Regions from separate parts of the Homo sapiens genome. Here region 1 is linked to region 2. A link means that fine-mapping ties the variant in region 2 to the expression of a gene that starts in the linked region. Tissue or cell type: fibroblasts. Region 2 holds a variant in brackets; the other region holds the start of a gene. All regions are shown on one strand. Distances are from middle to middle.

Region 1 (5,306 bases), 140 kb before region 2:
TTTTTGGTATTTTTAGTATAGATGGGATTTCACCGTGTTAGCCAGGATGGTCTCCATCTCCTGACCTCGTGATCCACCTGCCTCGGCCTCCCAAAGTGCTGGGATTACAGGCGTGAGCCACCGTGCCTGGCCTGCAGATTTTTTAAAATAAAAAAGTAAAATTAAAGAAATGTCTTCATCAGGATAAGGCATATATAACACTTTGTTCTCTTTTTCAAAAGTTTATGTTAATAATAAAATGACCATGAGCAGGGCCTTGAACAAGCTTCGCTCCCGGGAATTACTCACCATCTCCACCTGGTCCCTTCACTCAACACTCCCGGCAGTAATGTCTCTGCAAGGAACAAATATGGGTTAAAAATAAGGTCTGAAGAGCCTGCCCCCTCCTTGCCTAGGAAATCTGAACCCTCAGGCAATGCCATTCTTACAAAATGTGCTTTCTGATTACTTCCAGAAGGCAGGGCAGGCTGACCATGCAGTCTCCTGTGGTGAAGTGGCTAAAACAATTCTCTTCACCAAGGCCACTGAGTATCTGCACACCTCCAGTCCAACAAATCAGTGCCTGGTGGCTTTGGCTATTTCTAATACATGTGTTTCATTCCTGTGCCAAGGGCTCCTCCCTCCACCCTCACTGCCCAGTTTGTGTTGTGGCCATTCCTCTCCCTTCACTGCCTCCACCTCTGTCCTGGATTTCTTCCTCTGTATCCTTCCCCCTTCCGCTGCTTACTTTTTCTCTTCAGATGTCAAGAGAGCTTGACTTCTCCCTACTTTACTTCTAAAAAAGAGAGAAACTATAGAGTTTCTACCAAGTTTCAAGCACTGCTCTTTATAATCCTGCAACCTGGAGTTGCTATTTCACGCCTCTTCTGCTCAATGCTTGACGCACGCTAAATATAGAGGAGTATGACACCCGAGCTCATGGAAGGCTCCCTTTTTCATTGGCAGTGGGCTTGACTACGGTTCATGCCAGTTCCTAATCTGTCTTGGCATTTTTCTCACTCATTAGGCACTTTAGAGAAAAAAATAAGGTCACAGTCCATCCTGACTTCTAACTACACCCCCTTCCTTTCCTCAAGCCCTGCAGTCCCCAAACCCTCCCCACACCACCCCAACACGAAGATGAAACTAATAAAGAAAATGTTCATGAACCATCTCTTAAAGATATCCTGCTGCCAGTCCTGTCCCAGGTCCCTCCTCCAAGTACAACACTTGGAAGAAAAAAGAAAATCGCTGGCTGAAAATCCTGACCTTCTACCAACAGGACAGAATGTGTGCCTTCTCATTCTAGGTCTTATGCAGAGGAAGCAATGAGAAATGCTGGCTCTCCACTTTTCTTTCAGCATTAACTTCAGGCTCTTCTATTAGCTACTTGTTTAAAGATTGTAGGACACAAGTAAATGCACACCTGTTGTCACAGAGATCCACCCTAAGAGGTCTAGTCACTCTTCAGCTACTCAAGAAGTATCCAAGATTCCATTCATTCATCCATCTCCCCAACCAGACTTTTGGCCAAGCCCCGTTCGGAAAAAACCAATGTTGTCACAGATTGCTGTGCTAGTAATTGTAAAGCAGTTGTAAGGTTTAGCTCGGCTTTGGGCTGAACCAGTCTCTCAAATGCAATGACATTGTACTGTGTGTTTTCTAAATGCTGTACATAAAACAAGGTATAGCTTTCCTATGAGAGGAAAAAATCTATACTGCAATAGAGTTGATAAAGAAGAACCAAAACTGAAGAGGAACACTAAGATCCCTGTTGTGCTGAAAATTTTTAAAACTTTGATTTTTATAAAAAGCTCTTTTGCAGTAAGGTGTAAAATAAAACCAAGAGATCAATGAAATAAAATTCACACCATCATGTCTCTGTCCTTTAAGAAGAATTTTGAGTAAACTGCCATTTTCTGTTACTTTTTTATTATCTATGTTTCCTAAAATACAGAAGTGTTTTTTGAGAGTAAAACTGCAAATTACTTCAAGTGAGAAAATTGGAAATGATTATAGAAACAGAATTACAAATGTTGATCCAGCATAATTCTAGGCAAATATATCACTGACAGTCAAATCCCAGATAATGACAGTCAAACTCCTATATAAAAGATTTTAGAAACCCATACACACATATCTGTTTCGACACTCTGAAAGTGTCATCCAACGTAGAAACTTCAAACTCTGATTCCCTCCTAAAATGAGAGCCATTTTCTACTATTAAAAAACAACAACAACAAAAAACTCCCCATTAAAACTCTTGCGAAGTGAAGCAAAACACACAGACAGTTTCATCTGAAATTATCTTCCTTGCCAGTGAACGGCCCTTCCACGCAGAAAGGAAAAGTTACAGATGGTTGGAGCAGGGTGACAACATAAGGAATTCACATACTCCTCTTTACACAATAACGTTGCCAGCTAAATCCTAACTTTCAAAAGAAGTCTCTCTGCCCTGCTGAAAATCAGACCTTAAAGGGGGAAAAGCACAGATTGGAGCCCCATGCCAACTGTTTACATGACGGAGTTCTAACTTGCTAATTCACACACACACACATGCACACACTAAAAACTCGGAGTGCCTGCAAATACAGCAGGCAGATAGCTTAGAAAGTGAACAGACGCGTGCAAACGCAAGAACTGAACAGTACCCTACCTCTCTTGTCCGTTTCACAAACCGGCCGATGAAAACCGCCCGCGATCCCAGGGCGTGCTGAGCAGCTCTGAAGGAGGTGGCCACTCGGCCCGCTGAGTGTGTGCAGGCCCAGCCTGCGCTCAGAAGCTGCCCCAGTCAGATTTTCCAACTGCAGAACTGCAGCCAAGTCCCTGCCCATGCCTGAAGAATTTCCTGAACAGCATTCCCGTTCTTTTTCTGACTGCTTTGAAACCGTACTCCGTACTTCAATATGGCTTTGTCAGACCGACTCACAGCTACTGGGCTGTCTCCAGCTATCAATGGGAAACACATGTGTCAAGCACAGGCCGACTCCCCTGCAACAGCGCTCATGGTGTCTGCCGGGCTCATACTCACAACCAGAAAGAAAACTGCTTCTACAACCAATTCTGATTTTTCAGCCATTCTCCACACAGCCTCTGCTCTGTAGTGCTAGATGCTGGAGATAAGTCCTCTCTTTCTTCTGCTCAACACTGCTCCTTTTTCACTTGCTCCTTACACTTGAGTCCCCAGCTGACCCCTGTCAGCCCCCTGAGCTCTTGCCAGTCCTGATAACAAGCTTATTACAGCTGAGAGATGTAAATTCTAATTTGATCTCCCTACCTGCCGCTTCCTAAATCTTTGCTCAAAATTTCAATTGCTTGAGGGGGAGCAATATTTTTAGCATTTCCACACTGGTACAGTTCTTCGGAGCTGTCCCCTCAACCTGATATGTACATTTTTTGCTGCAGCAACTAAAAATAATGCAATTATTTTTCAGGCACTTTTGTTGCTCTCTGTTCTGCAACAGTGCTGGTCCAAAAATGTAACATTTTATAGGCTGTTGGAATGTGTGTTATGGTTATGGAAAATAGAAAAGAGAAAAGAATGTACTTTGAATCAGAATGCGTCCTAATTCTGTGCACCTGTGATTATTTCTGGATGACACTCCCTCAAGATGCCCTGTGTACATTCTGCTGGATTTGATGCTCTACCTTTGACATTTTCCCTTTCCATGCAACAAGAGGAAACCTCAAAACAGGAGGACACCCCTCTTCTCCCACACTGAAAAACCCCCATATCTAAAGAGCCAGAGCAAAGTTGTCAAGGTAACATTGTAGAAAAGAGGTGATTTAAAGAGAGAGGAGCATTTGTTTTGAACTGTTTCTTTTTTCTGTTTTTGGTATTAACATTTTACTTCCAAAAATCACACCCCATTGGCAACTTATTCTAAAGAACTGGCTTGCCAGATTTTAAGTGTTGTATGTTCTTGAGGGGATGTTGTAAGTAATAGGATTCGGTGGGGTCGTGAGTTTAGCATCAAATTACACTGGGCACTTTGAGCAGGATTAGATTTTCGCCTTGGGAAGCAGTGGGGTGGGAGGCGGTGTGGGGAGGTGTGTGTGCACATCTAAGGTCAAGATGCAATTACAGAATCAGATCTTTGGAGTTGGAGACACCCCAGAGATCATCCAATCCAAATTGTTTCCACCCTTCATTTTACAGAGGGAAGTAGAGGCCCAGACAAATGAGATGACTTGTCCAGGGTTTTAAAGACAGTTAATACCAGAGCTGAAGCTAGAAATGGGATTGGTGCTCTCTTTTTCTATCTGCTTTCTCTACTGCAGCATAATTTGGGAAGGTGATATCATCTAGCCTTCTAATCAGATAGCCTGGGTCTAATCTTAGCTCTGCATCTTACTGACTATAAACCCTGGTCAGCTTGCTTAACCTCTCTCGATCTGTTTCCTCATCTGTGAAATGGGAACCATAATAGAATCTACTGGTAGAATTGTTAAGGATTCAGTGAGATAATCTGTGTAAAGTGTTTATGACTGCCTATAAATACATTTCAGTTTACTTTTTTTTTTAATGGAGCAAAATGCAAACCTTTTCTCTAACCTAAAAGCCAAATTGTACTCTCCCATCTAGTGTGAGTTCTAGAATAAAGTATTTGAGTGGCTAGTTTTCTGCTGCTTTAACTTTATGTAATAGGGGCCTGTCACCTTAAACTTGGAGAACTGTCCTGAAGCCTTATTGGAACATTAAGCCAGCTATACCGCTACTTTCCATTTATTCCCTAAATATAACACTGAAGTCTTTCCTTGAGATTAACTCACAGAAAAGAAAAACAGTGAGATCAAATCTGCAGTCAGTTACATGAGGCTGAACAAAGTGTCATTCCAGAGAACTGGGCTTTATACCTTAAGAGCTCAAAATTATCATTCTATAAATAGAAGACTATTAACAATTACAATGTTCATGTTTGGAAATGGCAACGTCCTAAATTAACAATAATAGCAAAATAAAATCCCACAAGTTGAGGAAGAAATCTTTCAGAGAAAATAGCTGCTGCAAATTCTAAAGAATCAGACTTCTACGTGGGGTTCCACAGTCTTTGAGAGCCAGTGGTAGCAAATTGCTAATGAACCGCTTATTGTTTATTATTCACGTTTTATGCCCTGCTTCTTTTCAGGGAAAAAAAAAAAGAAGTTTTAAATAGTTGAAGAAGTTAATCTTGAATGTTCTGGTAATCAATTTAAAAAAAACTCAAGCTGATACTCAGCCCTAATCAAACAATGCTGATATGATTCACGAGACCCTGCCCTCATGTCTCCCCAAAGACTTGTTATGTGGCTCATTTCAATGTGGGCATCTGGAGAGATCTCAGTTT
Region 2 (5,381 bases):
TTTTTTTTAGCATTACAGTTGGCTTTTTCATTTCAGTGACATTTTACCATCAATTTGCCTTTAGATTTTCCTCACAGAATCATTTTCAACCCCCAGAGGTTTTCAGCCTCCAAAAAAACAGAACATCTGTGTCACTAGCACGTACTCTTCATAGCTGCATTAATGGCAGGTGCCAGAAGAGGTAACATGTTAGGTTTGTTGGATGTTAAAGGAGGCAAAGAGAAGGAAATTATAACCCTCTTCTTCCTGGCTGAACCCATGGTGGTGGAGAGTCAAGCGAAAGCTTCCCCTGGCCCTCTGAAGATTCACTGAAAAATCAACTCCTAAAAGTCAGATTAACTGGAGAAAAGGCACACAAATTTATGTAATGTGTACACTGGGAAAACCACAGAGTGATTACCCACTCTACAACAGGGTGCAGAAGCTTATACACCATCCTAGCAAAACAGGTTATAGGGTTGGGGAGAAGAGGAATTCTGTTGAGGGAATTACTAGGGAGAATGAATGGATCAGAGATTAATTTGTATATTAATTTGTAAAAGGGTCTGTTCAGATGTGGTTACGCTCTCGGTCTTAGAAGGAGGCGAAAATAGAACTGTTTTCTTTGGTGGGTCTGGATCTTGGGCAGATAAAGGAACTTCAACTTCATCTTGTGCATGTAGAGAGGGATTGTGTGTATGTGTGTCGGGGGGGGCGGTTGGGGTGGTCAGAGAGACACTGAGGCTTCTTCAGCATGTCAAAGTGCCATATTTTGTAGATATTTGTCTTTGAACCCCAACAGTAGACACTACCAATGGCCCATGTAACATGCTTCCTGCTGAGGAAGGAAAGGCTCTCAGAAGCCTTTTGCAACACAGGAAACTCCAGGTCACCACTACTGCTATATTTGAGTAGGTCCTGGAGATTATTCTCTTAGAACTAGCCTGAGACCTCCTTTAAAACAAAGCATCTCGAGTATTAGCCACTACCTTTATCCTGCTCTACTTTTATTTTTCTCACAGTATTTATCACCTTTTAACTAATGTATAATTTACTTTGTTATTAGGTTTATTATTTTTTGACTGTCCCTCTAAAATATGAGCTCCACAAGGGCAGGATCATTGTCAGTTGTTTTTAATGATGTATGCCAAGCACCTGGAATAACGCCAGGCACACAGCTGGTGCTCAGGAAATATGTCTAATGAGTAAAAGAATGAATGAGTTTCTTCCTCCACCAGCATCAGAATCTCAAAGCTCAGACCAGGGCAAGGCTAATAAGGCATCTGGGGCATAAAATGTAAGGAAACACTTACTCTTAGGCCCCCCTGCACTAGCATGACCCCGAACATGACAGCCTCCTTGAATTCTGCACCCTAGGCACCTCACTGCCTCACCCTAATCTTAGCTTTTAGAATCCTCACTGTTAAGAACACATATTTCTCACCATACCTTGTACCTCCTGGATCACAATCACTAGGAGGAGAGAGCAGCCTGGGAATTCCATTTCTAATGAGCTTCTTTGTCAGTCTTACACAGAATTTTGTTGGAAAATCACTGATTTAAATTAAGCAGTTTTGCCAAGATGAATTTTCATTACATCATCTCTGGCCAGTTCCATCCTCATCTCATTCAAGGTCTTTCCCACCCTTTCTCCCTTAGCTTAGCTTTCCCCTCTTCTCCCTAACAAAGTTATAACAGCAGCTAACAGTGTTTTCTAAGCCCCAGACACTGTTGTAAGCACCTTACCATTTATAACACACCTAATCCTCATACATCATGCCACAGGTACTATCAGTATTCGTGTTTACATATGAGGAAACTGTGGCAGAGAAAGGTTAAGGAATTCACCCAAGGTCACACAGCTAGTAAGGTCAGACTCAAGATTCAAATCCAGAAGCCTCTAGAGGGCTAGAGACTATATGTCTATTCAGAATGCTTTTAACATTCTAGCCAAAAGAAAACTGTTTTCCTGCACATCCTAGATCCTCTCAAATGGCTTGCCTTTGTTCAGCAATTCTCTTTACTGAGAAAGCCTTTTTGGTCCCTCCTCCATCAAAAAACCTGCTATTAAAATCATATCCATTTCCCATTATCCTATTGAAATCATATTCATTCCCCATTATCCAAGCAGAACTCCATGCCCTCCATGAAGCCATCTTCAGTCACCCTAGAATGAAGGATCTTTTTCCTCTCTGCTGTGGTCATTTAACTTGGTTTATGATTATCTCTATTATCCTGTTTATACTGGGTTTTGTTGTAGAACTAATCTAGTAAGATTAAATATTTTGAAATACTCACCCTTTTACCCATTGCCCCTTTCCCTCATTAAAGTACTGACGATGCCCTTCTATGTTCATTGCTTCTAGAGGGTAGAAAAAAAACATGAAAAGAAAAAAAGAGGTACATTCTTGACTTTTGAGT[T/C]TCCAAAACTTAGTACATTCTCCTAGGAGAGAACAAATATTACTCATGAGTAAAGGCCATTGACTTGGGAAAACTTTGGATGAGTAAAAGGCAGAGCTATCTGGCTGACTCCCATACTTCACATAGCAAATTGGATAAAAATTCCTTATTGGGAGGAAAAGTAAAGGGGAGGCAAGGAGTGAACAGAGATTTCAGGGTCTTGAAGAAAAGGGAGCCTTAAAACAAGTTCAGATGTGACAAGTTCAGATTAGCTTGGAGACACAGGACAGCAGAGAATATCAATTCCAGGCTAGAGCCCAAGAAAGCAGCATAACTCCAGGAAAAACTCATAGTTGCATATAGTCGTGTATGTAAGCAGAGAGAGCATTAAGCAGCTAAGCAGAGAATGCCTCAGGAGCAATACAATCACCTATTTGCCCAAAAGTAGCATAAAACCAGATAAAGTCTTAGGAGTGCCATAGATGCTTTCTTTAGCTAATATTTGAGGAGGAGAATGATCTCATGTGTCCTAAAGTGGTTTTAGAAGATATGAGAGAAAGCTGTACTTGAACGGTAGGGATGAAGGATGATTTGGCGGTATCTTCAAAGGACAACAGACCATATGGCAACAACAGTATCATAGCAGATATCAACATAGATTACAACCAGTCCATCTTCACCCCCAACTACCCACCAGTCACAACCTCAATATGTTAGAACTCAATATAGAAGTCACCCCATGTTTATATTAATATGTTACCTTCACTTTGCACCAGAATGTTTCTCTTGATTATAATCCACTCCTTAGTTCAGGTCCTGGTATAAGAGGGGTTCAACAGGTTTTTGTAAATTAATAAATTAGAGGAAATCTCACAAAGTTGGAAATAGGTATTTTTTTTTTTGCCAGGAAAGTCTTCTAATGACACTAGTAAACATTAAAGTGGCCAATTAGAATAATTTAATACAGGATGCTTCTACCATATTTCGTTATTCCGATCACAGATCTTTGGTGCAGATCAAAAGTACCCCAAGTCCTGAAGAGTTCTGAAACAGAGCAATTATGAACACAGTAAAGAAAGCATATGGGAGACATGGCCCTCTCTCTCTCTCTCTCTCTCTCTCTCTCTCTCTCTATATATATATATATATACACACACACATATATATGGCCATATTTATAAGTTTGTAAAAATCACAGCCCACTGTTTTTAAAAGTCTCACAACAGAAGTGACATTTGTTGAGGTCCCACAGGGGAGGGTTTTTGTGAAAAGTGTTAAAAATAAATCACGCTGTTTCTGGCAAGGTTTCCTTGGGGAAAGTCAGATGCCAGATTATCCTTAACTTCAAGTTAATTTGTACATATCAGACAACTAACTGTAGTCTTTCATTTCTTATCAAGGGAAAAAGATGTTAATCAATTCATAGTTGAAAAAAGGAGGGGGATACAGAGGATTAAAAAAATTAAAAGAGGCCAGGCGCGGTGGCTCACATCTGTAATCCCAGCACTTTGGGAGGCCAAGGCGGGCGGATCACAAGGTCAGGAGATCGAGACCATCCTGGCTAACGTGGTGAAACCCCGTCTCTGCTAAAAATACAAAAAATTTGCCGGGCATGGTGGCGGGCGCCTGTAGTCCCAGCTACTCGGGAGGCTGAGACAGGAGAATGGTGTGAACCCGGGAGGCGGAGCTTACAGTGAGCCGAGATTGTGCCACTGCACTCCAGCCTGGGCAACAGAGCAAGACTCTGTCTCAAAAAAAAAAAAAAAAAAAAGAAAATTAAAGGAAGGAGAAACGCATGCAGTATAACAAAGCCAGTCATTTTACTGCCTGACCATCACCACTGAAGGAACATTTAGAACCAAAACACAAACATTTCAATTATTTTTAGAATTCAAATAACTCAGAGACTGACTTAAAAGGAAAGAAATGTAAAAAGTGAGCATCCATAAGGAATCATTGTTCCTTGAATGGTGTTTTGAAGGCTCATAATGGGGCACAGGAATATTGCATATTGGAATAGTCACCTTAAACCCAGTCTACTTTGTGAGATTATTGTTTTTATAATTTGCTGCTCCAGATAAATAATATACAAGACCCAATCTCAGCTTCAGGGCAACAGCAGGCAGCACTGGGTTATTTAGTTATATTTGATATAACTGGCTCCTCTTGGGCTGGTGGTCCTCACTATTTCACCTGTGCCCTTATCTTGGCATGGTCCTTGTCTTCTGCTGAGAGGCAAAATGAATGAACTCTTGCTCCATCAAACTAGCAGAGCAGGAGGGAATAAGGAGGTGGTGGTAGGGTGACCTTTGGAACCACTGATATTCTTTATGTTTGTATTAAATCAATTGTATTGAATCAATTGTGCCTCATTAAGAAATACACTCCTTACTTTAGGTGTTTTAAGAAGTCTCATAAATATAAGACAGGACAAGGAAGAAGCAATCAATAAACATATGAGGGCATATTGCAATATCAGGAGTTTGAGAGGGCACAGATTGGGGTAGCATCTTATTTAAATTATTTTTTAAAATATTTTATCCAAGTACTATTTGCATATATTTAACAATCCAAAAGCTAATAAAAAGGCTTACAATGAAAAAAAAAAAAAACTGGCTGCTTGTCAGCCTTCCTCATATCCCCACTTCACAGGATAACATTTTCAGTTCTTTTAGTTGTGGCTTCTAGGACAGATGGTCACCATCTTATGATGGTTCAACAGGATTTTTTGACTTTCTAATGGTGTGAAAGCGTTAGGCATTCAGCAGAAACCGTACTTCCAGTACCCATACTATCATGTTTTTCACTTTCAGTATAGTATTCAATGAATTATTTGAGATATTCAACACTTTATTATAAAACAGGCTTTACGTTAGATGATTTTGGCCCATCTGTAGACTACTGTAAGTGTTCTGAGGATGTTTACAGTAGGCTAGGCTAAACTATGATGTTTGGTAGGTTAGGAATATTAAATACATTTCAACTTACAATATTTTCAGCTG

Direction of the effects. Alleles are on the strand shown, and positions count from the first base shown. SD is a standard deviation of normalised expression in the study named.
In carriers of allele T in region 2, the expression in fibroblasts of the gene that starts at base 2,704 in region 1 tends to be lower than with C alone (small effect, 0.28 SD a copy in GTEx).

What was found. PIP is the estimated chance that this variant, and not a neighbour inherited with it, causes the effect.
Region 1: SGCD starts here. The variant in region 2 is fine-mapped to the expression of SGCD in fibroblasts (GTEx, PIP above 0.99).

What each region holds. Positions count from the first base shown.
Region 1 is chr5:156,324,562-156,329,867 of GRCh38, reverse strand. SGCD (sarcoglycan delta) reads right to left here and starts at 2,704. Exons shown (of 9, transcript NM_000337.6): 1 at 2,636-2,704; 2 at 289-334. The coding sequence starts at 291. All of the region lies in intron 2 of LOC124901120 (a long non-coding RNA gene), which reads left to right.
Region 2 is chr5:156,183,982-156,189,362 of GRCh38, reverse strand. It overlaps a transcript of SGCD not described here. Among named protein-coding and RNA genes, the nearest start is that of SGCD, 140 kb to the left of the region's middle. The variant T/C (reference allele first, on the strand shown) is at 2,401.